4 linked regions of the Homo sapiens genome follow. The protein of the gene in region 1 purifies or fractionates together with the protein of each later gene. This does not show direct contact. Each region holds a gene or a part of one and is shown in the gene's direction. Other genes may lie near its edges.

The links.
Region 2: the proteins of TBX20 (region 1) and TLE4 purify together in Homo sapiens (affinity purification with mass spectrometry; 3 studies listed by BioGRID and IntAct, with this or other methods). This does not show direct contact.
Region 3: the proteins of TBX20 (region 1) and TLE3 purify together in Homo sapiens (affinity purification with mass spectrometry; 3 studies listed by BioGRID and IntAct, with this or other methods). This does not show direct contact.
Region 4: the proteins of TBX20 (region 1) and TLE1 purify together in Homo sapiens (affinity purification with mass spectrometry; 3 studies listed by BioGRID and IntAct, with this or other methods). This does not show direct contact.

The regions. Positions count from the first base shown.
Region 1 is NC_000007.14:35,251,097-35,258,876, reverse strand, and holds the start of TBX20 (T-box transcription factor TBX20), read left to right. Parts: upstream 1-4,776; 5' UTR 4,777-5,256; coding exon 5,257-5,383; intron 5,384-7,780. UniProt on the Homo sapiens protein: Acts as a transcriptional activator and repressor required for cardiac development and may have key roles in the maintenance of functional and structural phenotypes in adult heart.
Region 2 is NC_000009.12:79,574,962-79,581,989, forward strand, and holds part of TLE4 (transducin-like enhancer protein 4), read left to right. Parts: intron 1-1,171; coding exon 1,172-1,216; intron 1,217-7,028. UniProt on the Homo sapiens protein: Transcriptional corepressor that binds to a number of transcription factors. Inhibits the transcriptional activation mediated by PAX5, and by CTNNB1 and TCF family members in Wnt signaling.
Region 3 is NC_000015.10:70,094,909-70,101,875, reverse strand, and holds the start of TLE3 (transducin-like enhancer protein 3), read left to right. Parts: upstream 1-3,958; 5' UTR 3,959-5,077; coding exon 5,078-5,101; intron 5,102-5,123; exon of another isoform or gene 5,124-5,196; coding exon of another isoform or gene 5,197-5,199; intron 5,200-5,614; coding exon 5,615-5,715; intron 5,716-6,234; coding exon 6,235-6,298; intron 6,299-6,967. UniProt on the Homo sapiens protein: Transcriptional corepressor that binds to a number of transcription factors. Inhibits the transcriptional activation mediated by CTNNB1 and TCF family members in Wnt signaling.
Region 4 is NC_000009.12:81,583,155-81,588,547, reverse strand, and holds the end of TLE1 (transducin-like enhancer protein 1), read left to right. Parts: intron 1-671; exon of another isoform or gene 672-719; coding exon 720-867; exon of another isoform or gene 868-873; intron 874-2,892; coding exon 2,893-3,043; intron 3,044-4,023; coding exon 4,024-4,100; intron 4,101-4,242; coding exon 4,243-4,350; 3' UTR 4,351-4,865; downstream 4,866-5,393. UniProt on the Homo sapiens protein: Transcriptional corepressor that binds to a number of transcription factors. Inhibits NF-kappa-B-regulated gene expression. Inhibits the transcriptional activation mediated by FOXA2, and by CTNNB1 and TCF family members in Wnt signaling.

The DNA.
Region 1 (7,780 bases):
TTTAATGCAGTAATTCTAAAAGTCAAAATTCATACAAAAATCATGATATACAAAATAAATAGTATACGTCAGCAGCCGGGCCCTTGGGAAGGCGGCGATTGCCCAAGAGGAAGGTTGCAGAAGGAAGGTGGGAGCACGCGTGGAGGAGGAGAAGGAGGGGAAGGAGGAGAAAGGAGGGTGCAGGAGTGTGAGGAGAGTAGGCCTGGCTTCCAAGCCCACAGGATCAGAAGAGATTTTTCTTTTCTGTTTTCTTTTGCAGTTCTTGATCACGCTGCGAGTTTTGCACACAATGTTAGCACGCTGATTCTTCCACTGCCGGGAGGAGGCCCGGGGCTCTGAGGGCCGGTCCCTGCGGTAGTGAGCTCGTGGGGGATGAACGGGGAGCGAGTGGCCGCGGGGAGGAGCGAGAGGGTCGCAGCCCCGAGGGCTGTCCTGTGAGCAGGCTGCGGGGCCTGGCGCGCGGGGACCCGGGGAAGACGCTACAAGGCCTGGAGGCGCCGCGCCTTGGGACCCGGAGGAGGCCCAGGGCGGACACGTGGGGTGGCCTGGGGTCCCCCGCCCACGTAGCGCGGCTGCTGAAACTACATGTGCCCTGGGCTGCCCGCCGCCCTGAGCCTGAGGCCAGGCGGGTCAACGTCGCAGCACCGCGGGCTTCTGCCAGAAGGACATTTCCCCTCACCTCCTGACCACATCGGCCTTGGAGATGGGCGCGAAGCGCCTTACGCCCACAAGACATCCCTTTATCGGCTCTATAGCTGGGCGAGACTGAGGTCTCGGACGGAACGCGCGCACTCACACCCCATCCAGGAACTTCAGTGACACTCAGGGGTGCTGGCTCTTTGCTTTGCCCTTCGAGCAAGACTTGGGTAAGGGCTCCTCGAGCTTTCTGGTGCGGAGGCTTCCTGGGTCGGCCCGAGGCCTGTAGGTTCCCGGCCACTTCTTGCAGCTTGGCTGCGAGGGAGCGCTTCTCCGGGACCACTTTGGCTCGATAAACTAAAACCCGCGGGGTGTTCGTCGGAAGGATCCTGGGAGGCAAGGCTCAGACCCGCCCTCCCGACTCGCGGTGAAATCCAAGGCCGCGCCGCGCGCTCCCCACGGGGCACGGAGCCGCGCGCTGCTCTCGGCGCGCCCCGGGAACGCGCCGCAGCGGCCTTGGAGGGGCTGCAGTTCCTCTTCTCACTGTTCTTGGGAAGTCTTTCCTTTTCCGTAAACCTAATTTAGGAATCCAAAGGCACCGAAGCCCGTTAATGTCGCTTTTAAAGTGTCTACCAGAAAGAGCTGGAGGGAGGCTGTGGACAGGAATCTCCGGCCATGTTCGGGAGTAGACAGATGCCCTTGTGCTGAGAAGCGGGTCTCCCTTCTCCCATTCTCTCCTGCCGCCAACGGTGGCTGCCAGGCTGTGCCCTCCGCTTGGCACCCTGCCCCGCCGTCTCGGCTCTGCTCTCGACCACGGCGCCTGCGGACGGTTGGTTAGACCTGCCGGGACCGGTCCCTGCAGCTCCCAGCTAAGGGAGCATTCGTTAGCATTCGTTAAGCGAGGGACCATTGTCCAAAAGCCGGAAACCGATTACTTCCTGGACAGTTTTGGGGGTCGACTGTCTTCTGAGTTCCGGGAGCTACAAATGAGAATTTGAAAGAGTGGTGTATATAAGGAGACATCTTCCAGTCTTCCATATAATCAAATTCCATATAAACAAACTCAGATGTATAACAAAATTTTACATTCTTAGGCGCCAAAGTTTAAACGGGATGTAAATAACAATCCAATACCCTCCTGTGGCCCCAATGCTCTTTGTACATTCCAAAACTATCTACATTATATATGAGCACCCGAGAGACATGTTTCTCCAATCGCGAATTTGCAGTTCAAAATTAAATATGATTAAAATTCTGTATTATGCTTTACTTATGTTGGGTTTATTGTGAGTGTTAGGCTTTTTATACACATTAGGGCATTAATCCAAAGAGCTATCTTCCAGGTAGGAATGAACTATTGGCCCTATTCTAACGCAGATGAAGAAACTGAAGCTTTGAGAGGTTTAGTAACCTACACAAAGTCTCCGGGCTAATGCGTGTGTTAAAGTTAACATTAAGACTTCAGCAGCTTCCGCTGCCAGCAGTCAGCCTGAGAAGGGCCTAGAGAGATGTGTTAACGTGCTTGTTTTGTTCCAACCCCCGGGTGGTTTTACCTGTTAACCTGCGCTATCAGTGGCGTTTTGAAGGGACCTCAGAACTCCCCACTCTCCGCTTTGGGAAGGCTTTGAATCATCCTTCGACAGCACCTCTCTGCCCAGAACCGGTTCCCCGTTTTTATGGCATCATATTGATTTGCAAAGGCAATAAATCTAGGAGGAGGGACGGTGTGCCCCCGATAATAATGTTGCAGCATATGTTTTACTGCCGAGGTTTCAACACCAACAAGATGCATAGCCTAGAGATCCCCAAACGGGTCACCCGGATTTGTTTAAAGTGGCCTTTTCAATACCTCTCGTTTGCCGCCTGCCTCCTAACGATCACTCATCTTTTCTTGTATAGTATTTTACCTGTAGTAGGATGCGCAGTCGGGGTTTCCTGCACACAAGAGACACAGAGCTGGGCTAAGGCCGCGTAGGCACTTGGAAAGGAGGAGGAAACAGATTTGTGGCAATTCAGTTTTTCCCTTGCTTCATCAAATTTTCTGAAAATGTTCCTCTCATGATATTATTCATATTCCAGTCAAAATCATTGAGGTAATTAAGAAAAGACACAGTTGTTTTCCTCTGTGTAGAAAAACAATCAAAAGGGTTTTTTTATGAAGTATAATTTTGCGGCAAGTTTTTGAAAACTAAATTCAGCTAACAAGGTTTGCCACACCCTGTTGAAGCATATATCAAGGTCTAGACTAACCATAACATTCCCCGACCTTCCAAAATCCCCACTTCTTGAGGGAAATCTTTCTTTCTGGACAAATCCTAAGCATTTGATATAGGAAAGGAATCAGTGTGTGCCTTCCACTCAATACAAAGAAATGTCACTTACATTGAGAAGGTGTGTCTGGGGAGAGACAGGTTGGGGCGGGGGACTTTAATAACCAAAAAAGGGGTCTGGATTGGGTCTGGGTTGTCCAAAACCAGCAAAAAATTTAAGAATAGAAACGGATCCTCAGATGCATCCTGCGGTTTAATCTGAAAGCCCTCTGCTTGCCAGCCGTCGTTAACTCTACTCTGGCTCTTCAGCTAACAGCCCAGCCACAGCTGCAGGGCCAGGGGCTGATGAGGGTCGGGGCCCGGAGTGTGAGTCCTGCCCTTCCGTCTGCTTCTAGCCGCTGAGGTGGACTGGGGGGAGATGCGCGCTCTGCCACGTCGGGCCCTGTTTTTCTCTCTCAAACGCACATGGAGACCGGCTAGAAGACAGCGTAAATTCCTTCCAGCACCAAAGTCTATGGTTTTACGAATTTCCTCAAACATTTATAAATCGACACTTCGAACTTCGATAGTGATATGAGAATGCATTTTTTAGTCACCTTCATCCAGCACCTTGTTAAAAACTATTGACACACGATGACCAAGACAGGCTGAAATCACGACTCTTCCAGATGTCATCATTTTGTTCACACAAACGTTTTCGACAGCTATTTTAACTTGCCGTTTTCCCTCACAAATTTATTTCAGGAGTAGGGGGTGGTGCAGTGAAAAGTTGGAGTTTTAAAAATTATTATTATTATTTTAATTTTAAGACCCACGAAGAGGCTTCTAATAGCCAGACCGACTGGCTGGAAAAGAGAACAAATATTTACATATACAGCTTGAGTGTGTATGTCAGCCTGAGTTTACACGGCTCCAAGCGAAGCGGATTACCCTGCGAATTCGGAGAATTTGAGTTATTCAGGCTGAGCAGGGCTAACAGGACGCCCTCCAACAAGGCCGTGGGAAGTCCTCGTCACAGCCGCCTTTGTAAAACCAGAGGGGTCTGTGTCCGCTTAGTCCGGGCGCTACCATAAGGTTCGCACTCTCCCACTACGCGTCGCGTGGTTACCGTAGAGCTCCGCGCCCTGACCTTCGCCTTCTCTTCGGCAGCCGTCCCATTTTCCAGGGTCCCTCTAGGGAAAATAGGAGCCCCAGGCTAGAGACGCACTGGTGAGGAGCAGAAGCCACGGTTCTGAGAGCAGCATCCTTTGCCAAATGCCCGCAGCTCTCGCTAAGCTTATCTTTTTCAGGGCTGCATTTGCTCAGCCCCACTGTCAAAGAGATCAAATTTGGGACCATCGAATGAGAGTCCCAGCCCTGGGATCTGCCCCGAGTATGGACCTGGCCAGTTGGCGCCGGCTCAGAGGCGCCGGATTCTACTGAGCGCTTCCCTACTTTCTTTTGGAACTTTGAGCGCAGGTAAGAAAAAGAATGGAAAAAGCGAGAACTCCCGAGGCTTCCACTGGTCTGGTCATAGCTTCCCCAACTGGGCCATGCCCGGATCTCGGGCGTTAGGCCGCGGTGATGTGTCCTCTCCCGACAGCGCGCACCGCCCTCCCGCCCGGGGCTGTGAGACCAGGTGGGGATGTCCATGGCTGCTGCGTCAGCCTAGTGGTGGCACCCTTTTCCCTGAACCTGTGCTGGGGTACCGAACAGCCGGGGCGACAGGCCACGCGGGCGCCGCACCCTGGGCGCGCCCTCCGCGCCCGGCCCGCGGCCCCGCCCCCGGCGGCGGAATCAGGAAGCGGTGACGTGAGACGGCGCTGACTGGCTGCGGGCCTCCGGGATCGCCGCCGCCAGCAAATTAAGGCGCAGGGCAGCGAGCGCCAGGGCTCACTGTCCGTAGTTCCGCGCCGCGCTCCCCACGCCAGCGTCCTAGCAGCCGCGCTCGGCTGGTGGCCACCTCAGCCTGGGACATCCCGGCTGTCCCCAGCCCCAGAGGGAGGAAGGACGCGGAGGGGATGCTCCAGGACCCCAGGACTTTGTGCAGTTGATGCTCGTTTCCGCCTTCGGGCTGTGCAGACTGTCGTCCTGCCGAGCGCCCCGGGGCGTGCGCACCCGCCGTAGTGCTCGGTGGGCCCTCTCCTCTCCGGCTGCCTTCGAAGTCTCTGCGGCTCTGGGGCTTTGCGGTGGGGAATAGAGGCCAGTGTGCAGCTCTGGAGTCGTTGGAGCTGACACTTCTGGAGTCCCTGGCCCCGCTGTGACTGCTCTCGGAAACTTTGAGCTGTGTTTCGGGTCTTTGTCTCCCTTGGGGAATCTGGACGGCAGTTCGGACGACCCCGTCCCTGGCCAGGACCGCGTGCTGGGGACCATGGAGTTCACGGCGTCCCCCAAGCCCCAACTCTCCTCTCGGGCCAACGCCTTCTCCATTGCCGCGCTCATGTCGAGCGGCGGCTCTAAGGAGAAGGAGGCGACGGAGAACACAATCAAACCCCTGGGTAAGTTGGGCTACCCGGCTGTCCGCCGAGGACTGGGGATGCTGCGCATCCGTCTGTGCCCCTGGCTGCAGGCGGCTCGCAGCAACGTCTGATGCTCAAGCCATGAGCCATACATCGCGGGTGGGAGATCTTTTTCTTTTGGGTCCAAGTTTTCTTTGGAGGCTTCAGTCTGTTGAATGCTGTGAATGTGCATCTTATATCTGGGCCCGTCGGTCTCCTAAGTTGTCTAGAATCCATATATCAGATCAGACATATGGTGTGTGTGTATGTTTGTTGGGTTAAAAACATTCATGGAAAAATAATAATAAAACCCCTTTTAAGGCTCAACAGGATTTACTGTGCATGTAACACCTGCTTGTGCGTTTGAAACGGAGACGCTAAAGGACTTCATAAGAAACCAGTTTAATTTTGGTTTTCCTCTGACTTGAATAGACAAAACAGAGCAAGCTCTTTGAAACCACTGTAAAGCAGAATAAGCCAGTTCTCCCTACACGAACCATTTTATTCACTGAAGCTCTAGACTTATCACCAAGACATCATTTTATAACTGTCGTCATTTTCAGTTGAGGTTGGCAAAAACACTAACCAGTAACCATTTCTCAAATTCCTCTACTTTTAGTTATGTTGTTTGTTTAACAACCTTTACCATTTATAGAAGACACTAGGCTAGGAGTAAAGGGAGAACAGGGATTATGTTCTTCTTAACACTAGTGAATTACATGGAAAAGAACCACCCCAAGATAAATATTTAAGAATCTCTTTACAACTGAGGGAAAAAGAAGTGTTCTCATCATTGCCTCGTGGATCCCCAGGAAATAATTGTTACACAGCCTGATCGTCTGGTATCACTACAATGTGAAAATCAGATAGCAAACTTAAGTTAATTTTTCTTTTTTAACCCTCCCCAATTTTTCCTTTCTTCTCTCTGTCCTTCCCACACTTAACATATCACATCCAAAATAATGATAACATGAAAAAAAGGAAGTGTTAGAGATCAAAAATAAGGTGTTTGGGCTTAAAGATGAGAGAAGTAAAATTCCTGTAGCTACTTGAAACCAAGGAAAAAGAAACTAGTAGATCTGTAGAAAACAGAATGTCAAAAAAAAAAAAAAATCTGTCCTCTAAGTTTTCACCCCCTTCCCCTGGTTCTTCCCACCCACCTCCCATCTAAATCTAAACCTGCCAAAGAATGGAGACAATCAATCAAACAAAATCCAATTGTTTAGAAAAATATAACTAACAATTTCAAAGTTATATTGTGCGACTTCTCAACATTATACATTGCTGTTTAGGGGCCCCTGAATTCTTTGTAAACATCTCAGCTTGTTACATAGCAGGAAAAGAGGATTCCCGACAGAAGTGTAGACAGCAAATTGGGAAACATGCCAGCCCCAGCTGCACTGTCATTTCAACATTGCTTCCTTCTCTCTTTATTTTTCTGAGAAAAGCCACCTTATATCGAAAATTCTAAATCTTGAACTTTAAAGCCATGCCCAGCTCACAACTCCAACCCTACCCCCATGCCCACACACACATATAGGCACTAGTATAAAATGCATGTCCCTCTCCTGGCTTTTGAGATGGGCTCTGAAAGAACTAGCAGGCGTTCTTGTCGCTTACACTGGCCAGTTCAACAGAGGTGACTGCAAGCCAAGGACTCTATCAAGAGAAACACCTAAAAGTTCTGTTAAGAGAGAATGTGGGACTTTTGTTGAAGCAAACTATAGAGTGGGGAGGGGGATTCCAGTGTGTCCCAGGATTGCCCTTTTAAACATACAAAGTCTATTTAAAGGAACAGCTTCAGTCTGCTGAAGCATTTCTATTTCATTTTCTTCCTCTCCTACTTCCCATCCTGATGCATTGGTCAGTCTGGGGCTTAGGGAGTTTGCCTCTTTCAGTTGTCAGAAAAAAAAGTCATTAACACTACTTCTTAATTCCCTCCGAAGACATTATGTGAATGTGTTTCTGAAAATATTAGTAGAAAATAAGATTTTGTTATGGTATGGTTTCCTTTCGTTAATCTGAAAAAAATCAGGATGGCATTTAATTTGATTATTCTTAAGTTAAAACATTTTCATGGGTTGGATTATCATTGCATGAGAAGTAAAAGTAAAACCACTCTGTTTCCTGTTTTCTTCATGTACGGATGTGTAGGAAATAAAACACCTTATGATCTGTGCGTGTCCCATATGCCCACACACATCATGTACATGTACATACATACATTTAGAACTGGCTTTGATTTCTTGAGGGCACTTAAGAGATCAACTTCACATTGCAAATTCAAGTAGTTTCTTTTTTAAGGGATGGAAGATAATTGGGACAATTACAGAAGTCTCCCTGTATTCCATCAAAGTGACTGGTGTAGTCCCAGGCCCTTATCAGCTGTGGGGGAGA
Region 2 (7,028 bases), on another chromosome or scaffold:
AAGTGCCTATTAGTTTGGAATACCAAAAACAAGAATATGTTTAAATTGCTGGGGGCTGCAAGATAGATCACAGTCACCCTGCCAGTGCAGTTGAAGTTGTGGGAATATGTCTATTAGCAACCTGTAATTCTAGGCTGTTATAACTTGCCTTTGACAACTGGCTTTGATTGGAATTTTCAGAAAGTTCAGCCACATGGGGTATAATTTTCTGTGCTTTGTTTTTACAGATCGAAAAAAAATAAAAACAAAACCTTGTTTGTTTTGTCACAAGCAAAAATGTTTTTGTGTTAGTGGCTTTCTTTGTTGTTTTATTGCTCTTGCTCCAAACAATTTTTGCCAGTTTTTCTGTATGCTGTTAACATTGTAAATGTCTTATTATTAAAGACATTATTAAAAAATAATGTTTTATTTCTTTGAAAAGGAGTGATGGATAAGGAAAGACAGCAGACCATTTTTCAAATTTTTTTCTCTTTATGTTACTATTACATTAATATTTGTATGTTTTCAATTTCTGTAGTGTTATATTGGTTTGAGGAATGTTGTAGTCTCCTGTATAACTGATGTGTTCTGCCAGAATTTCTATGCCAGTTATACTACACGTTCAAAAAACCAGATCTGCTTTTACAGAAGTATTATGAAGCATATTTTTATGATTGTCCAAGAAAGCTCCAGAATAACCCACTCATTTATTTTTCTATCTAGCTTTTTTGCTTTGAATGTGTGAATATGAGCAGTACACTAACAAATCAGAAATCAAACTCTAAGTAGCATCACCTTTTCCAACCTTCCTTTCAAAACATCAGCGTTTGTATAAGGCATTCTTTGCTGTTAACTTGCCTGCTGTGCTTAGGAATTAAGAGTCCGTAGGATACCAAATTTTCATCAGACTTTTTTGATGCATCTGCTTGGGATGTATAAAGAAACTGGAGATGTTAAGAATGCTGTGTTTGAATTTAATTTTTCTTAGTTTTGTGTGTTTTCTCTTAGAATTTGTGTCTTAAGGTGGTTAAAGATAGTGATGGGCTCTTGATTTATTGGCATAGGTTATATGAAGATACTGGTTTAGGTGAGGCTTTTATGTTTGTTTCAGATTTACTTGGGGCATTTTGAACAAACTAGGGAGATTGTTTGATGAAAGTCATGCATTTAATTGCTTTTCCTTCTTTGACAGTATTATGAAATGTCCTATGGGTTGAATATAGAAATGCACAAGCAGGTAAGTTATTTCTTTATAACCATTTTAAATGACAGTAATACTGGGACACTATGAAAAGAAAATTGTATGTTTTGCAGTTTTATTCTGCAAGCCGTTGTGGCTACCTGTATTTAAAAGTCTGGGTAGTGAAGAAAATGCTGTTTTTTCATGTGTGGCTCCCCATCTTTCTTTCATATTATCCTAATTTTTATAATTTAAAAATGTTATTTTAAAAAGTCTGAATACATATTAAACTCTGTACACTTTCAAAAGCAGGATGCTAAATTTTAAAATCCTCTTGTTATTCTTCTGAAAGAGTTGCTTTATGTATTTTGGGCATTGCAAACTTGTCTTGTGAAAGAGCTTTTCTTGGAAAATATTAAACAGTAAAATTAAATTGTGTGGCGCCTTCGTTGGCTTGATGTGAAAGAATGGATAGAGGGTGAGCTGGGAGGATGAAAATGAAATCTGTGGAGCTACAAAAGAAATTGATGTAAAATCCTTGTACTGGTCCCCTGAGGCTACTTAGTTGGGTCTTACCAAGAACTATAACCGTTACTTCCAAAATTTGTACAGAGTAAATGAGCCTGATAGGAGGATGTGATAAGGTTCAACATTGGGTCTTGAAATCTAGCAATTAGTTCAGTAGCAAAAAAAAAAAAAAATGATTAGTCAGAAAGCACTGAGAGATACGACTCAAACAGTCTTCTTTTTGTGCAGGAGACTGAATAAAATGGTTTGGCTTAAATTTCCTAGACAGAAGAATAATAGCGGGTATATCTATCTATATATATATATACACACACACAAATATATATACATACATATATATATATAAATATTGTTTGGCGATAGTAATTCCTCTAGGAAGCATTTATTTTTAGTGATCTCCTAGTGGAAGCACTTCAGGTCTCATCAGCCATTTCAGAATAGGTGTGTATGTGTTTGTCTGCTGGGAAAAAGACAAGGGAAAACTTACTGCTTTTCATTTCCTATTTATGGTCAAGGTGGATGTCATTACTTTCTAAGTTGAGAAAATATGAAATGAGCACATACTATTAGGCCTTCACTATTTATGGATTCCTTTTTGGGTATAGTTATTTTCTACATGCTCAGAACATCCCAGATAGTAGATCTTTAAGAGATGGCTGTTAGACAATAAGGCAATCTGATGAATAGTATTGGAAAACAAAAAGTTGGAAAAAAATGAGACGTTGCTTACATTGAGGACTTTTAATTTCAGATACTGTTTTACTTTGTATGCTATTTGGTTATGTCAATATTAGCATTATAGTATAGTTTGAATGGCCTGTTGAAATTAAATTCTTATTTTGGCATCTTTGTCATTTCTGTTTAGATTAGTAATGTAAATATCTTCTGCTTAAACAAAATCTGTTCAATCTTGTGGATGGACTTCTCTTAGTTCTACCTTACAGGAATAAATTACATGAGAGATATTGTTTGTTAATTATCCCATTACATTTCCTTTGAGGTCTGGATCTTGTGTATGTCTCTTTTTTTGTCTGCACCCCACTCCCCAAAATTAATTAGTGTCTTTTTAAAGATTGGACCAGATGATTAATTTAGTCCCTTTATTTCTCCTTCTGTATCTTGTTTACCCTAACCACTTAGTTTCCAGGTCTCCTTGTACCATCTACATTTCTAAGAGGCACATAGCTTGTATTTGGCTGTATGTATTTCTTTTTCGAGGGGGTATGTGAAATCCCTTAATTTTACACATTTTATACTGCTATAATTCTGTCATCTTCTTGTCCAGCTAGCCTCAAATGCCATCCATTTAAAATTGAGAACAGTACATTTTCCCTTTTTTTCGTTTCCTTTTAAATTCAATCATATCAAGAATCCTGAGGGCAGTTTATCACATTATGAAATACAGACAGCCCTGCAAACCACCTACTTATTATATTTTCTTTCTTTCTCCCCCTTAAGCATAGAGGCATATCTGTCTTTATTTGTTTTCCTAGGCAGACAGCCTTAGTTCCTCTTAGCCTCTCTTCCAGATGTACTCGCTGGATACCCTTGTAATGGAAAGCAGCAATAATGCAGGGAAGTTGCCCTGCGGCATAATTGGGCCTAGTTCTCAAGATCGGGTTAGGTTTATTCACTTATTAGATTTGTGTCTCGAAGGGTTCAACAGTAGGAGTCCCGGGAGCCCTTGGAAGTACCCTAGTAATTGGTGGCCCTGATATTTGAAACCTTTGTGTATTTTTTGGTTAACGTTCCTGTTCTTCTTGGCTGCTGCTAGCCACAGAATATTTATTTTTAGAGAAATTTTTCATTGGAACAGAAAATGGTGGTTGTGATGCAGTCATGGCTCTGTGACTTAGCAAACTGATAAAAAGATAAAAGTATGAAGCAAAGACAAACAGGGTGGAGGTCGGTGTTCTCCCTCCTACCCTTTCTATGTGGTGCTCATCATCAGTCCCCCTGTGTTGATTCTGATAGAGAACTATAAAATGAAACCTATGGGGAATTTGTCATTCTGAAATGAAAGCTAATGTAATTAGTACCAATTAAAGTACATTTAGTAAATTGGATTTAATCTTAATTAAGCCTGCATAATGTTGCCAATTTTTAACAATTATGTTTGAGAACATAATTAATTTAAATTTTGGTAACTGAGTAAATAGCATTAGTCTGGTAGAATTAGTGGATTTTTTTTTTTTTTAAAGGGGAACTTGGTGATATGACGTGGAATTGGAACATAAAATATGAATCTAAATTTCTGGTAATCTTTAGGATTGATAGAGCTAAGCAGATGAAGCAAAAAAAAAAAAAAGGATGAAGTATTCTAGGCTATAATGGGAATTAATGCTGTGCCATTGTCTCAAGTTCTAGCATAAAAGTGAAGATGACAAATAGGACATGGTTAGAAATGGCACATGTTTTAGTGTGACGTCTTCAAAATGGAATTTTTAAAAATGAAAGAACATAGGCCCTTATTCCCTAAGGATTTCCCTAAGTGTATGGTTTTTGTTTTTTGTTTTGTATGAGACAGCTGACCCAGGGTTTAGTTGTTAAGTTTTTTTGCTGATTGTTCTTCTTTGTAAATACAGTGTGGCTTCTAAATGGGTTGGTGGCTTCTAAATGGCACAGTGGGGTGATGCATGGAGTTGATAGCATTACTAAATGCTGCTTCTTCCCATCTTTCACCTGTAATGCTGTCATTAAAGAAGTCCTCACTGATGGACTCTGACAGCAGTGGTTACCATTCTAAAAAGTGAGTATTGGATATAGATTAGGAACAGTAGGTATGTGAATTCAACCTATAGGAACTATATGGAGATGAACATACCATCTTTTGAAAAGGGGAGCATGAGAACATCTATGACTTCCTTATAGTTAGTATTCTACAATGTGAAAGCTTCTTCATTTGAATTTTAGTAATCATCAGGAAATTTTAGAAATCTAAAACGCATAGAATCTGAAAGTAAGTACTGCACATTTATGTATGTTTTATGTGTGTATTTTTATATGTGTGTGTATTTGTGTGTGTGTGTGTGTATATATATATGTATATTTAATCAAAGCAAGAAAACTCCTGTTTCACTTAAAGCCATGTAAATTTTATTACGAGACTTGGGCCACAACCATTTGAGTGCTGCTAAAATATTAATTGAATAGAAATGAAAGGGCCTTGCCAACTGATAGGATATCATAATCATAGCCTCTTTGGTCGATGGTAAATGATGATAAATGACATTAGGAACCTTTTAGCAAACTGTAATAACTACAAGGAGGGAAGCAGTATGGATTTGCATTGTATCTGATACCCTCTAGTACCAAGTGGATTGCCAATACTGCTTGTTTAGCATTTTCTAAGGGCAATAAGATATTGATTTCTGACTTACAAGGAACAGCTCTATTTTCACCATTGAAAAGTATTGCAGGTTGTTAAGAAGAAATTGACTTGAAGAGGCCGACTGCTGCCCATCATGGAGCAAATAAAGCAAAACTGCCGAAGCATGGTGGAGCAGCGAGACGGGCCCTCAGCAATTTGTTGCTATTAATTTACCATGCTCGACAGCAAATCAATCGGCATCTACTTCATCTGCTGGAGAAAATGCTGTCCAGGGCAGATAAAAGGCTCGGCATGGTACAGAGAATAGACTGGATTGGCCAAAAGCAGGCTGCAGTTAATGTGTAAATAAGTGAAATCAAGGCCACTGTTGCAGAGGAAGCTGTTGTTAATTAGGTTGGTGTTTTTTAGTGAACTATTTTAGAAAGCAGCTAGGATTTGGAGAGTAAGAAGAGATTTATTGAGATTGAAGTAATACATGACTGGCATGACATTCTAGCCTTGAGTGTACTTGAATCTAGGGTGCAGTAAATTTATTTGGGGACACTGCTTGCTATGAAGTTTGTTGAAAGTTCATTTTAGACCACATTTCCCTTATGATAACTTTTTTTTTCAACCTTGCCAGTTTTTTGCACATCTTCTGTCTTATTGTGTACTCTTAGATTTAGAAGAGTAGATGGAGGAGTAGGTGTTTTAGTATGGAGGCACAAATGTGTCTGTTATATTCTTACCCAGTGCCTTTTTTTTTTTCAGAGATAGGTATAATTGAACTCTTGTATAATAATGAGAGTGAACTATCATGGAAGATGGGGTGTTCTAGCTGAAAGTAACTAATAAATGAAGATTTTGCTGACAGAACTTTATCTTGCTTCAGAAATATTAGGAAATAACAATCTAGAGGGCCTGAATAGTGGGTAGATACTACTAGATTATAAAATCTTAAAGATGACAAGTGAAATTTTGATGTCTGCATAAACTTCAGATACAATTATAAGACTATGTGTGTGGGGGTGGGAAGGGTTCTTGTGTTTTTGGTTTTCATTAAGGTTTAAAGCCACCTTTTCTAATTTAAGATTATTTACACGCTGATAATATTCCACAATTAATGTTAACGGAGTGAAGGGTATTGGTGGTGTTTTTTCCCCTTTACCTCTCATTTGGGCATTTTAAAATAGGAGGCCAACTTCATTTACTCCTGTTTAGTAAATCTAAATGAGTGTAGGTTTTAAATTAGATTTTTTCCCAAAACCCTTCAGAAGGTCTAGTATTAGGGCAGTTGATAAGTAAGTGGAAGCACCTTGGGCAGGACCCAGTGACCTGTCCTTTTACTTATTACAGCACCTGCACGGGAAGCAGATCTGGAGGATGAAATTTAACCTGTTACAGTGTGTGTATGTTTTAGGGTGTGTGTTTTCCGAATACTGTGGGGAGTTCCCTTTTTCCTTCTCCCATGATGGATTCTTTTGTCTTTCTAGAGATACCATAGGAGGATATCTGGATTTTTCACCTAAGGCAGTGATTCTTGAGTGAAATTGGAATTTCCTTTCAATAGAAGTAAACATTTATTATATATCTGGCTTGCGCTTACCACTGGTCTGGGCACACTGCCAAAATTCTTATCGTTAGTTCTCATAATGATCCTAAGACAGGGATTATATCCAATCAAAAGTTGATTAAACAGGGTCAGCTCTGCACAAGGTGATACAGCTAATAGTTGGTGGATTCAGGACTTCAAATAAATTTATGTGGGAGGATATCTCCTGGGAGATGGGTTTGCTATGGGTTAGAGATTCAGGCCCCAGTTCATTCCTGAAATAGAGAGTCCCTGAACTTTAGGCTCATACGCAGAACCTCTTGAGTTGGGGGATTCTCTGCAACTGCCTAGAGTCCATGGATGGCTCAGCCTGCCCTCTGCTTGCAGACTGCTTTCAGTGGGTGAGAGGGTGAGGTTGCTTTCACTCGGAATCTCCCACATGTGGGCTAGGGAAGCTGCTTGCTTATCAAGATGGAATT
Region 3 (6,967 bases), on another chromosome or scaffold:
TATACTAACTCAGCTAAAGTGCTTGAAGAATATTTTAAAAGACTCAGAGAAGTGGCTCCTCGGACTGGCAGACAGTTGCTCACCAGCCACCTTGCACCCCAAATAAGGGGCTGGGGGCTGGGGAGCCGCTGCTCTGTAAATCCAGGCCGGGCTTTCTGTCTCACCCGGGTGACTTTTTTTTTTTTTTTTTTTTTTAATGTGCCAGGAATTCCTCTCCCACGTGGGGTGGACTCCGAGGTACTCAATTAAGCAGCCAATGAAAAGTCAGCTCTCCGGTAGCAAATGACCCTGACACTTCTTGTAACATAAACAGTTGAAACGTTTCCAATTAGAACTGGAGACAGAGACGTTTGAACTCTTTCTCTCGACTCCCCTCCTTCTTTAAAATAATTGTCAAGCCTTTGGACGGGGTGTTGTATACATGTTTTTTATTTTCTTTTCTCTTTCTCCAGCATAAAAGACATGTATTTTTCTCCTTGTTTTTCCTAATTTGTGGGGTGGCATGTTGGGGCGGGGTGGGGGGGTGCGGGGAGATAGCGGTGGTAAGCTTAAAGGGATGTTGGCCTGGTTCCTTACCTCCCTGCCCCCTTCCTGCTCAGGGTTCAGGCAGCCGGTGAGAGCGGGGAGTGACGCTGGGTGAGGAGTGAGTGGGAGCTACAGGCAGGAGAGGCCTGTTCTCCCAAAGCCAGGCTCTCAGAAAGGGCTGGGCATGAATGAATGAATGAATGCCTTTTCTTCAGCAAAAACTTGCACGTATCCAGCTTGCGTAAGCAAAGGGGTCGCTGAGGTTGGCCATTAAACTGGCTGCCCTGGATTCGAATCCTGACCCTCTGCCCAGCTTGGGGCAAATGATTGAGCTTTCTCAGCCTCTCTTTTTTGCTCTATAAAATGGGGTCCCCAGCCAAACTGCTTCCCTCGGGAGTGAGGTAAGGGAGAGGAGAGCGCTGCCTGGGTAGCAGTGCCCTGCCTTGTACCTAGTGAGCGCTCAAGCGCTGTTCTTCCTGACTGCGTAGCGTGGTTCTACCGCCCGGCTCTGCGGAGGAGGCGGCGCTCTGCAAAACCGCGTCGGGGACACGCAGCCGCGAACTCCTCCAGCGTGCCGGGCTCGGCCCTGGCGCTGGGGCTCACAGGTGAACTCGACGTGGGTCTGCCCTGCTGGAGCGCTCTGGCTCGTGTGGTCACCGGGGGGCGTGGACGTCGGGGCAGGAGGGACACCCGGGCGAGAGACAGAGCTGCTGTCCTTTTCTGTACACAATCTTCGGAAGACCCGACCTGGGGGCCCCGCGGCTTCTCGGCCGCCTGCTGGCGGGCGCCGTCGGAGCCAGTCCAGAGGGAGACTGAGAGGGAGGCCCGGCGAGGCGCCGCGTCCCTGGCATCTTGAAGGCATTGTGTTTAATAAATCCGAGCGAGACGCACACCCGCTCTCATCCCCCTCTCCTCTCAGCTCCCAAATCGAGACCTGCTGTAGGACCCCCAGTTTACGGGGTCTTAAAACCCCCTCTACTTTGAGTAGCAGCTTCAAAGAGCTCCCTTTAAAGTTCGCCCCCTCCCCCGCCCCCACGTCCCCTTTCACAGGCCACCCCTCCTCCACCACTCCTTCTAGACTTCTGGAGGACGACGACAACAAAACACTAAATGCAAGTTTAAAGGGGGGAGGGGAAAGTCTTCAGGCTTCCTCCAGAACGTGGGCTGTGGAAGTGACCTGTTTCAGGCGTGCGCAGGAGTCGCCACACCGTAGAGTTTGGGTTTTCTTTTTCTTTCTTTTTTTTCCTCTTTTCTTTTCCTTCTTCTTTTTTTTTTTTTTTTTTTTTGTTTGTGTGTGTGTTTTTACCTTTTATTATTTAAATTGATACGTTTCATTACTAGGGAGAAAAATAAAATATTCCTTTGATACACAAAATCAAATTGATATTTAGCCTCTGCTTACTTTTTTATGCATGGCTCCTTTATACCACATGGTAGTGACAGATTGTTTGAGCTGGAAGGAAAAGCCATTCAAAGCTAATTAAGCAGCCATTCCAAGCACTATTTGCAAGCGGGAGGCTCAGAAGCCTCGGCATTTGTCAGCGCTCCCCCACCCCGCGTGGTTTTGACTGACAGCTCTGGCCGCGGACTGACAGGGCCCAGCAGCTCCGCCAATCAGCAACGAAGAGCCCCTTCGGCGGTCCGTGATTGGTGACTCGCACCTTGCTCGGAGGCGTGGTCGGCGTCCCCCACGTGGGGCTGGAGCGAGAAATGGGCGGGGCGAGTAAGAAGCGGGTGCGCCCACCCGTGACGTAAGGGGGAGGGCAGAGAAGGGGGAGGGGGAAAGGAAGCGCCAAAGAGGAGCCATTTTGTTTCTAATGAATGCTGCGGCCAGATGCTCGCATCTGTCGAGCCGGGCTTCTCCCTCCCCCGTCTTCGGTGCGCGCCGAAACACGATTTATGTTTTTATTTAGGAGAATAAATAAATGAAGAGGGGAGCGCGGTTCGGGGCTGGCGGCCGGAGCGGGCGCGGGGAGGTTCAGTTCTGAGGCGGGTGCTCACGTGTAACTCCCCGCGCTCCGGCCTCCGAGCGCCCGCTAGCTCTCAGCTCCTCATTAAGATGCAAAAGCGAACCTCCGGCTCCTAATGAGGGGAAAATATAGATCCGGGGACGCGCGGCCGGCTCGCGCGCGGGCTCGCGGACTTGCCGGGGAGGGCCCCGGGGGTCCCGCCTTGGCCGTCCACCGGGCGGTGCGCGCTTTGAGGTCCACTCCCTGCTTGCTCGTCTGCCCCGCCGTAACCCCGAGCGCGGGAGGGCGAGGCCATCGGTTTGCGGGCAAGCTGGCCCCGGAGTCGAGTGGCCTGTGCGACCAAGCGGGGGGTCCGGGGGGCCCGGGGCCGGGGCGAGCGAGCGGGGGAGCGTCCGCGTCCCTCGGAGTGTCCAGGCTAGCGACCGAGACACCTACAGGCTTCCGCCAACGCCGTGGCACTGCCGGGAGCAGGCTGAGCAAACCAGGTGGGAACTCGGAGTTCCCGGGCCTCGGCCGAGCAGGGTCCCGACCCCATCCCCAACCCCCTCAGCCTGGGGATGCAGTGAGGAGCCCGCGCGGCGAGGCTGCGTCGAGGGTGAAGTTGTGCCCACGGGGAAGGCGCCCCGAATGGGGCCAGCCGTGGCTGAGCCTGTTGTCCACGGGCAGCCGGGCCCTTCCATCTGCGCTGCCCGCCTAGCCAGAGTCCCTCAGACTTCTCCTCGCAGGCAGCCGCCGCACATCAAAGGAGCTGTTTATTTGGCTTTCTGAAAAGAAGGGCGAGTGAACAAAGGAGAGCTGGGGGCTAATGTGGGGGAGGCGGGCAGAAGAAGGGGTGAAGAAAAGGGGACATCCTGAGTTCCGAGCAAATTTTTAAAGGTCGGAGGCAACTTTAGGAGCCACCGTTTTATCAGTCCTAAATCTTTTGAAGTGAAAACATTAAAGTGACAAAGTGATTGTTTGTTTTATAGTATCTAATTGGGCTGCTTTGCAGACCTAATGAGATTAGAGGGAGGAATCGTTCGCCGCCGCTGCAGAATAAACTGATACATTACTACCAGCCACAGGTTTTGAAGATTGTACAGCTTGTCTTATTTTCTTTTGTTGTTATTCCTCTGTCTTCCCTCTTTCCTCCTCCCGCTAAATAATTATTTGCTAGTAGACCGTGGGAAAAAAAAGGAGGAAAAAAACTCGAGCAGCCCAGGACTATAATATATATCTATTTATTATATGTCTTTCGGTTAATTCCTGATCTGAGGAGCGCTGTTTTTCACTCCCATGCGAAAGTCACCAGCGGGTAGGGCCTGATTGCTACTTTTCATGCATAGTTTTAGACACAAGAGGGCATTGTGACGTCGCGCCCAGCGGCACCCAGTCGTAGGCCGAGTCCCGCAGCCCCACGTGGGGGCCCCGCGCTCCCATTGGCCAGCGCCGGACGAAGCTGCCACATTATTTTGTTACTTTTCAGTCCCTATTTGGAACTGCTCTCGCGGCAGTTCAGACCTCGTGCTCGTCCCCTTCGCCTGTCTGTGTGTGGTATCCGTAGGTCCGGGGCACTTTTTTTTTTGGTGTGTGTGTGTGTGCGTGCGCGCGTGTGTGTGTGTTGGGTGTGTGTGTTTTGGGGGTTTGCCGGGGCGCGGAGAGGAGAGCCGGGCCGAGGGGAAGGAAGGAAGCCGTAGAGCTCCCCGGTCTCGGGCTGCGTCTCCCCTCCAGCGCTCTCCTGCCTGTGCGCTCCGACGCGGCAGCGGCGGTGGCGCTGAGCGCTCCTCGGTGGGGACGCGGTGCTCAAGCTGGGAGCAGCGAGAACCCTTTGCGGAGGCTTCCCGTGCCCGCTGGACTTAGGATGCCAGGGCGTTTGATTTGCACCTACTGAGCCCGGAGTTCCTCCCCGGCCCTGGGAAGGGCTTGCAGCGGCGGCGGCGGCGGCGGCAGCGGCAGTAGCAGACGGAACAGCAGGCTCTCCTCTCCGAGGGGGGGCGTCGAAGCGCCCGCGCCGGGCTCCCGCCCTCACCCTCCGGCGCTCCTGCGGCCCCAAGCCACCACCTCGTAGCCCGCCTCCTTCCTCTTCTCGCCGCGAGCCCCAGGCCCGGACGCCTCTAGGATCGGACCCGCGCGCCCCGGATGCTTGGGGCTGCCCCGGCGCGCCCCCCTACAGGCGCGACCCGCTGAGTGACCCGGAGGGGGCCCGAGCTCGCCCCAGGAGGGGCCCCCGGCCTCGGGACCCCGCGCCGGACCTGCTGGGGAGCCGACGATGTCCGCGCAGTCCCAGGCATTGACGCGCTCGACGCAGCCCAGGGAAGGCGGCCGGCCGCTGCCCGCCGAGCCCTAGGCGCACAAAGCCCGCGCCCGCCGCCCGGCCCCGGCGCCCGCCGACGACTTTGCCGCCTGCTCCGCGGCTCTTTGTCTCCACTTGGGGCGGGCGCCCGACTCTGGGATTTCGCTGCGAGAACGAGCTGGGGGGGCCGGGGGCGAGCTCTCGGTTTCCCGGCCGCCCCCCGCTCGGGCTCGGCTCCCCCCTCCCCCGCACCTCCCCGGCCCGGGCTCTCGGCGCTTCCACGCTCTCGGAATCACGACCCCTCCCTGCCATGTATCCGCAGGGCAGACATCCGGTGAGTAATTGCAACTCGGTTTATTTAAGCATCTATCATGGCAGGGTAAACGAGGCAGTTTATCTGGCACCTCCATTTTGCTTGTTGCTACCTTTATGGTGTGTGTGTTTGTGTGTGTGCTCTCACACAAAGGGGGATGCGGCCGGGGGGCGCCGTTGAGAGAGGAGGTTAATTCCGCGCGAGTGGCGCGGGGGGCTGCTTGTGTTCCAGGGGGAGCTGTTCACGCGGTCCCCGGCCCCGCTCTGAAGTCTCCCAACTCACCCGGCTTGTCTCCCGCCCCCGCCTTACTGGGGAGAGGGAGGCCCTTGGTGAAAGGCATGGGAGCCCCGCTGCCGACGGGGAGAGATGGGGCGCCCCCCCTCCGCCCCGTCGGAGAGCTGAGAAACTTGCTGGGAAGGTTCTGGGCTGAGGGTGGCCTCTTTTGGTTGGGCGCCGTTGGGGAGGGGCCGGGGCCGCTCTGAGCGCGGTCTCATGCCCCCGCCCCCTCCCCTGTCTTGTCTTCGCGGGCTCCAGGCTCCCCATCAACCCGGGCAGCCGGGATTTAAATTCACGGTGGCTGAGTCTTGTGACAGGATCAAAGACGAATTCCAGTTCCTGCAAGCTCAGTATCACAGGTAAGGCCGGTGGGGGCCGCCCCGGGGCTGGCGGGGAGGGGTGGGTCCCCTGCGCGGCTCCTGCCATCCCCCGCGGGGACGGAGGGGGCTCCCGACCTAGGGGCGGCGGGGCAGCCCGGGCCTCCGCCTTTTGTTTCCCCTTTCCGAGCGCGCCGCCTTAACCCTTTACTGCCCGCAGCAGCCCGGCTCCCAGCGCCGCCCGTGGGGTCCCCGAATGAGGGTCTAGGTCGCGGCGAGCGGGTTCACTCCGGGTTCTGGGTGTCGGGAGCCAGCGTCAGGGTCCTACTCCCCTGCTGCCGTGATAAGTCCTTTGGCTCGCGGGAAGTTTCGAATTGTTTCACATCCCCCTCCCCACGGCGGGGACCCAAATCCCCCCGCGTCCCCAGGCTGTGGGATAATGGGGGCGCCCCCGGGGGGGTGTCAGGAAAGTGGAAAAGTGGCTCTAGAGGCCCTTGGGTCGGGGCCTCAGAGGAGGCTGTCCAGGCGCCACGCCTGAGCCGGCTCCTCCTGCCCTCGCAGCCTCAAAGTGGAGTACGACAAGCTGGCAAACGAGAAGACGGAGATGCAGCGCCATTATGTGATGGTGAGATGCGGCCGCGGGCCTGGGGGGCGGTTGGGGCGCCGACCCCGGCCGGGGGCGCGGCGTGGATCTGGGGAGATGAGCGCCAGGTCCCCACCACCGCCCAGCCGCAGGGCGGCCCTGAGAGAGGGCATAATCTGGTCTTGCCCTCCCCTTCCCCAGCTTCCATTGCCGGGGCCACTTGGAGGAGGGTGAGTGAGGGGAGGGGCAGAAAGAGAAACCCCGATTCCAGGCCGGAGACTTCTGTACTATCTTTATGTGCCTTTAATTTGTGTTTTGAAAGTTTCCCAGGGGCTGATTGCCATTGCCCTATCTTGGCTAGTAAGATAGGATTGGACCAGCCCATGTGAAATTAGGGTTGGTAAAAATCTCTCTTAGTGACCTCCTGGGAGTGTTTGGAAACTTTTCTGCTTTGCAGCTGGGATCTAGCCAGAGTAGGACAGAAGCCCTCCTTCCCCAGGGTGTTGTGAGGAGTGGAGAGGCCTTGTAAAGCTCTCTCTGCCTCCACTCCCCTCCTCAGGGATCCCCCAGCTGGGTATCTTCTCCACGCTGGGGCAGTAGGCAGACTGTCTTCCTTTTGCCCAGCAAGTTTTAATCTTCATTTGTGAGAGGGCACGGCTCCCTGCACTGCTTTCCACATAAGAGGCCTTCGACACAGTGCTAAATAACTCT
Region 4 (5,393 bases), on another chromosome or scaffold:
TGCTCCGCTTGGAGGCAGAGTCTTGCTGAGGTGCCCGTGGGTCTGCCTCAGCAATTACCTGTGTCTCTGCCCAATGCCTCTGAGGTCAGGAGGCCGGCATGCGTGACCCTTTGTCTCTGGGAGTCCAGATTTCCTAATGCAGGGCTCTTTCTAACACAGAAAGCAAGGTTGAGTAAATACATGAGCTCATGCTCTGTTGGCACGTAGGGCATTGCTGTGTTGATTCACTCATGGAAACAGGAATGCTTCTGTACACCCTGTGCTTGTAACGTCCCCATTTCTTTCTCTCACGGACTCAGGCCTGCACGATTAAAGAACAGACCTTTATCTTCCCATAAGGAATACAATCGGGATTTTGTGTGTTTGTCTTTTATTTTCTATTTAACAATTAAACACTTTTCCAGACCTGGAAAGAATTTTACCTTCCAGACGGTTTTGTCAGAGTAGCATATTTAAGTTCTGGGTAGTGACCTGCAGTGGCATTCCATTTCTTTAGCACTTGGATCGTGGAAAACAGGGAAAGACAATCGCAGGTGCTGTTTCCCCTCCTCCTCAGGGGAAGGTTAGTTTGATCTTGCACATCAGCAGACACTGGCGGGATCACACACACACACACACACACACACACACACACACACACGGTCCAAAACTAACAACACAACAGTGTTTACCTTGAGCTCTGGCAGGAAATCATTATTCAATCTGGTTTGTTTTATCAGGCAATTCCAGGGCCACACAGACGGAGCCAGCTGTATTGACATTTCTAATGATGGCACCAAGCTCTGGACGGGTGGTTTGGACAACACAGTCAGGTCCTGGGACCTGCGCGAGGGGCGGCAGCTGCAGCAGCACGACTTCACCTCCCAGGTGACTGAGTGGCTTCCGCCTGCCCTGGAGTCTGGGAGGTGGCTGGGGTGTGTCTTCCTCCTCACAACCCTCCCTCCTTTACCCTAGGATGGTAGTGGCTGGACAAACAGATCAGGGCTGAATTTGAGATAACTAATTTAAAAACAATGACCACCACCTCCTCCTTCACGACCCTCCCCCTACCTTCCCCAAAACTAGAGTGGTTTTTAGAATCCTGTAGGTTAAGGTGTGTTCTCTGTTATATTTACATATGAGTTTGTTTAAGGGATTTGTACATTGAAGAATGTATAGTTTTCCTTCAGCAGTGTTTGATCTGTGGCACATATTCTCACCATCTAATGCAGGAGTAGGAGATGATTTTTTGATTCCTAAATAAATAGAACTTGAGAAATCTGCAGAATGTCACTAAGAGTAGAGAAAAGTCACAGCTCCTCTGAAAGTTCATTTATTTACCCCGCACCAGAGAGCTCAAAAAAATGCACAGATACCTCAGTGATACCCATTTTATTCCTCATCCTTTAAAAAATGAACTGGTGGCTGACTAGATTTGCAGACTTTTGAAATAATGTATAAATGGCAACTTTGTAGATTGTGAAAAGTATTTTGATGTCCAATGTCTGAATGTAGACTTGTTTTGGAAAAAACAGTGTTTGCCATTTTAAATGCTTTCTGGTGGTAGAATTGTTCTTTCGATCATGACTTGGCATTTATTTTTTACCTTGTTTTGTAATAAAAATAATTCTACTCAGAAAACTAGGACAGAAACAGAAAACAAGCATATATACTTCTAAATTTCATATTCCTGTTAACATTTTGTTGAGTTTCTTAGAGTCTTGCTGTTTTCACTCTTTCCCAACATAAGCAGGATACAATTTTTGTTCTGCCTTTTTTTAAAACTTCTTAGAGAAATTCTCAAATACATATGAGTACAGCAAATGTCCAAGCATTTATGAAAGCACAGAGAATTGTACAATAAATGCCACATGCCCATCGCTCAGCTTGAAGTTATTTGGCCATATGATAACTCTCGTTCCCACCCCCAGACACTGGATTATTTTAAAATAAACTCTAGCAGCATATCATTGTATCCATAAGCACAGCCATGCACCATATAACCTTTTAGCCAAGGACAGACCGCATATGTGACAGTGGTCCCTTAAGATTATAATACTATATTTTTACTGTACCTTTTCAATGTTTAGATGTATCTGGATGTACAAATACTTCCCGTTATGCTACAGTTGCCTACAGTATTCAGTACAGTAACATGCTGTGCAGGGTTGTAGCCTACAAGCGATAGGCTCCACTCTCTAGGTGTGTGTAAGTGCACTCTCTGAAGTTCACACAATAAAGTCACCTAACAAGGCCAGGCACGGAGGCTCACGCCTGTAATCCCAGCACTTTGGGAGGCCGAGGCGGGTGGATCACAAAGTCAGGAGATCGAGACCATCCTGGCTGGCACGGTGAAACCCCGTCTTTACTAAAAATACAAAAAATTAGCCGGGCGTGGTGGTGGGCGCCTGTAGTCCCAGCTACTTGGGAGGCTGAGGCAGGAGAATGGCGTGAACCCAAGAGGCGGAGCTTGCAGTGAGCCGAGATAACGCCGCTTCACTCCAGCCTGGGCGACAGAGCAAGACTCCGTCTCAAAAAAAAAAAAAAAAAAGTCACCTAACGACACATTTCTCAGAATGTATCCCCCTTGATAGGTGATATATGATCGTATTTCAGTTAGTGTCTCTAAAAGGTAAAGCCTCCTTTAAAATGTACAGATGAATGCCATTATTATTAGGAATCATTTCTTAATTTTATCCCAAAAGACAGAGGGGTTCAAATGTTTCCAGTTTCCTAAAGGTTTTGACACTTGGTTCATCTGCGTTAGATCACTTGCCCTGTGGACCTCCCCACAGTCTGGACTTGGCTGATTACTTCCCCCCATTCTTGCTATTTCCCCACTTTTCACATTGCGTCTTCCCTTCCTAAGTGTATCAGGCGGAATAATGAGTGAGCCTGTCTTGCTCCTTGTAGATCTTCTCCCTGGGGTACTGCCCCACCGGGGAGTGGCTGGCAGTGGGCATGGAGAGCAGCAATGTGGAGGTGCTGCACGTGAACAAGCCTGACAAGTACCAGCTGCACCTGCATGAGAGCTGCGTGCTGTCCCTGAAATTTGCTTACTGTGGTGAGTTCAGCCGAAAGGAAACTGGAGGCCGTTGATGGCCCAAATGGAAAATGCTTCTTAAAAAAATATGGTAGAGATCATAATCTGGAAAAAATGTTCTCCGAGCAGCTGGATGCAATAATTCTATTGTTTTAATATGCCCTTCAGAGCACAGCAATGTCTGTTTCAGTCTGTTTTGCTAATTTGAGAAAAGTCAGCAGGCAATGTGATTGCCTAATACACGGTTTGGACACAAGTTTGTTTTGGAGGGGTTGGGAGACGACAATGAGTTTCTACTCTGAAGAGGGGTGGGCGGGAATTTATTGAAGAATGGAGCAGGGGCAGTGGAAGTCATTATGAGCTGGCCATGATGAGGAATCCAGGGTTAGAGAAGTCGATATTTAGGTATACGCAGACACTTAGTTACACTCTACTCTACAGTGAGGATGAAGAGGGAAGAAGTTCATGTGGTGACCCTTCTTGTGTGCTGCAGATGGGCAGATATCTGTTCACAGTATGCATAGATGGATGGATGGATGGATGGATGGATGGATGGATGGGTGGATGAGTGCCTATCACTTATTGAGCATTTTTCTTCATGCTATATGATGTGACTGGCATTTTACTTAAGTTGGATGTTTAATCCTTTAATTCCCATTAAAGATGGGAATCTTTAATCCCATTTTATCATGAGGAGACTGACTAAAATAGAACACATTCTTCATTGATTTCTATATTTGAGGGTTACCGTGTGTTGGATATGATGCTACTAGTCCTGTATCCAGTGACTAAGGAGGCTGATACCTCTTAGATTATACCCAAGATCACTGATAAATCACTGAGGAGCCCAGATTAAAACCTCTGTTCATATCATGGACCAGTCCTTAGGGCATGATAGTTCATATATTAAAAATGTTCTTAGTTTGATTAAGTCCAAGTTGCTAATTGTATAGTAGGAATTTTAACCTTGTGAAAACTAGATATTCCTTTGCTAATTCTAGGTAAATGGTTTGTGAGTACTGGAAAAGATAACCTCCTCAATGCTTGGCGGACCCCCTATGGAGCCAGCATATTCCAGGTGAGTAAGTACTCCTCACCTAGATCCACAGTTTGACCACAGTGTCGCCTCTGAAGCCAGGAGTGAAGGTGCCTCCGAGGGAGCAGGGCCTCTGAGTACCGTTGTTCCACATTAAACACATGTCCATTGTTTTCTCTTCCAGTCCAAAGAGTCCTCGTCAGTGCTTAGCTGTGACATCTCTGTGGATGATAAGTACATAGTCACTGGCTCGGGGGACAAGAAGGCTACAGTCTATGAAGTCATCTACTGAAAACATTATGTGGTTTAACGTTTATAGTTGAATTGGGCCAAAATGTTTCGAATTTATAGAAATAGAAAAGTTGTAACTTTAAAAGAGAAAAAAAATTACAAACACCTGTTTCCAAACCTTGACAGAAAACTACTTTGAGTCTACAAAGAGGAGGCGACAAGTCCATCAGCAGAAAGTCACCTGTCTACATAGACCAAATGGAGCACCAAGGCCAAGCGGACAGAGGGGCCATGGGTTGTAGGATTGAGGAACGGAATCTGCCGACTCACATGACAGCCCATTCTTTCTTTCTGGGTGATCTGGGGATCACGCCTTGCCCAAGTGTGAGATTACCTTTCTGTTCCTTGCAGTTCACCTCACTTTCCGTCCTTTGTAGAGCAGTGGTGTCTCCAATGAACTTGTTTCCTGGTTTTGCATCTTGTGAAATGTTTTTTTGTATTTTTGTTGAAGGTTAAACATTTGTATAAATTGTAAATATATTTGGTTTATTACAGTAAAGGCTTTAGTACCAATAAGTGGTTTTCCTTTTCTTTCTTTATTGTTTTTTATTAAAGCTTTGGGATCATCAATGTGGGTTTTATAAGCAAAGATTATACATTTGTAGAGGAAGTTTTGAATTGCACTGCTTATTTTATAAATATATTTGGTGGTAGGCTCCCATTGCATTAGAACCTAATCCTTCACAAGCTTGAGTTACTGGGAGCTCAAGACTAGGAATTGTGAGTAATTGAAGGTTTACTAATGACAGTTTTCTTTAGGAAAGTAAAATTACTTCATCAAGATTTGTTCTTTTGTTATGATACTATTGTGATTCAAGGTCAAAGATTAAAGCTCTACTTTTTTCTGGTGATTCATTGGAAGGCAAAATATTCCTTTTTCTAGGAAGGCCCAATCTCCTCTTCCTTTTCCCTTTCTCTTTCCCTTTCTCTCTTTCTTTCGTTCTCTCTCTCTCTCTCCTTTTTTTTTTTTTTTTTTTTTGTTTAAAGATTTGAGTTCACATTGTTTGTTACCCAGGTTGGAGTGCAATGGCATGATCACATCTC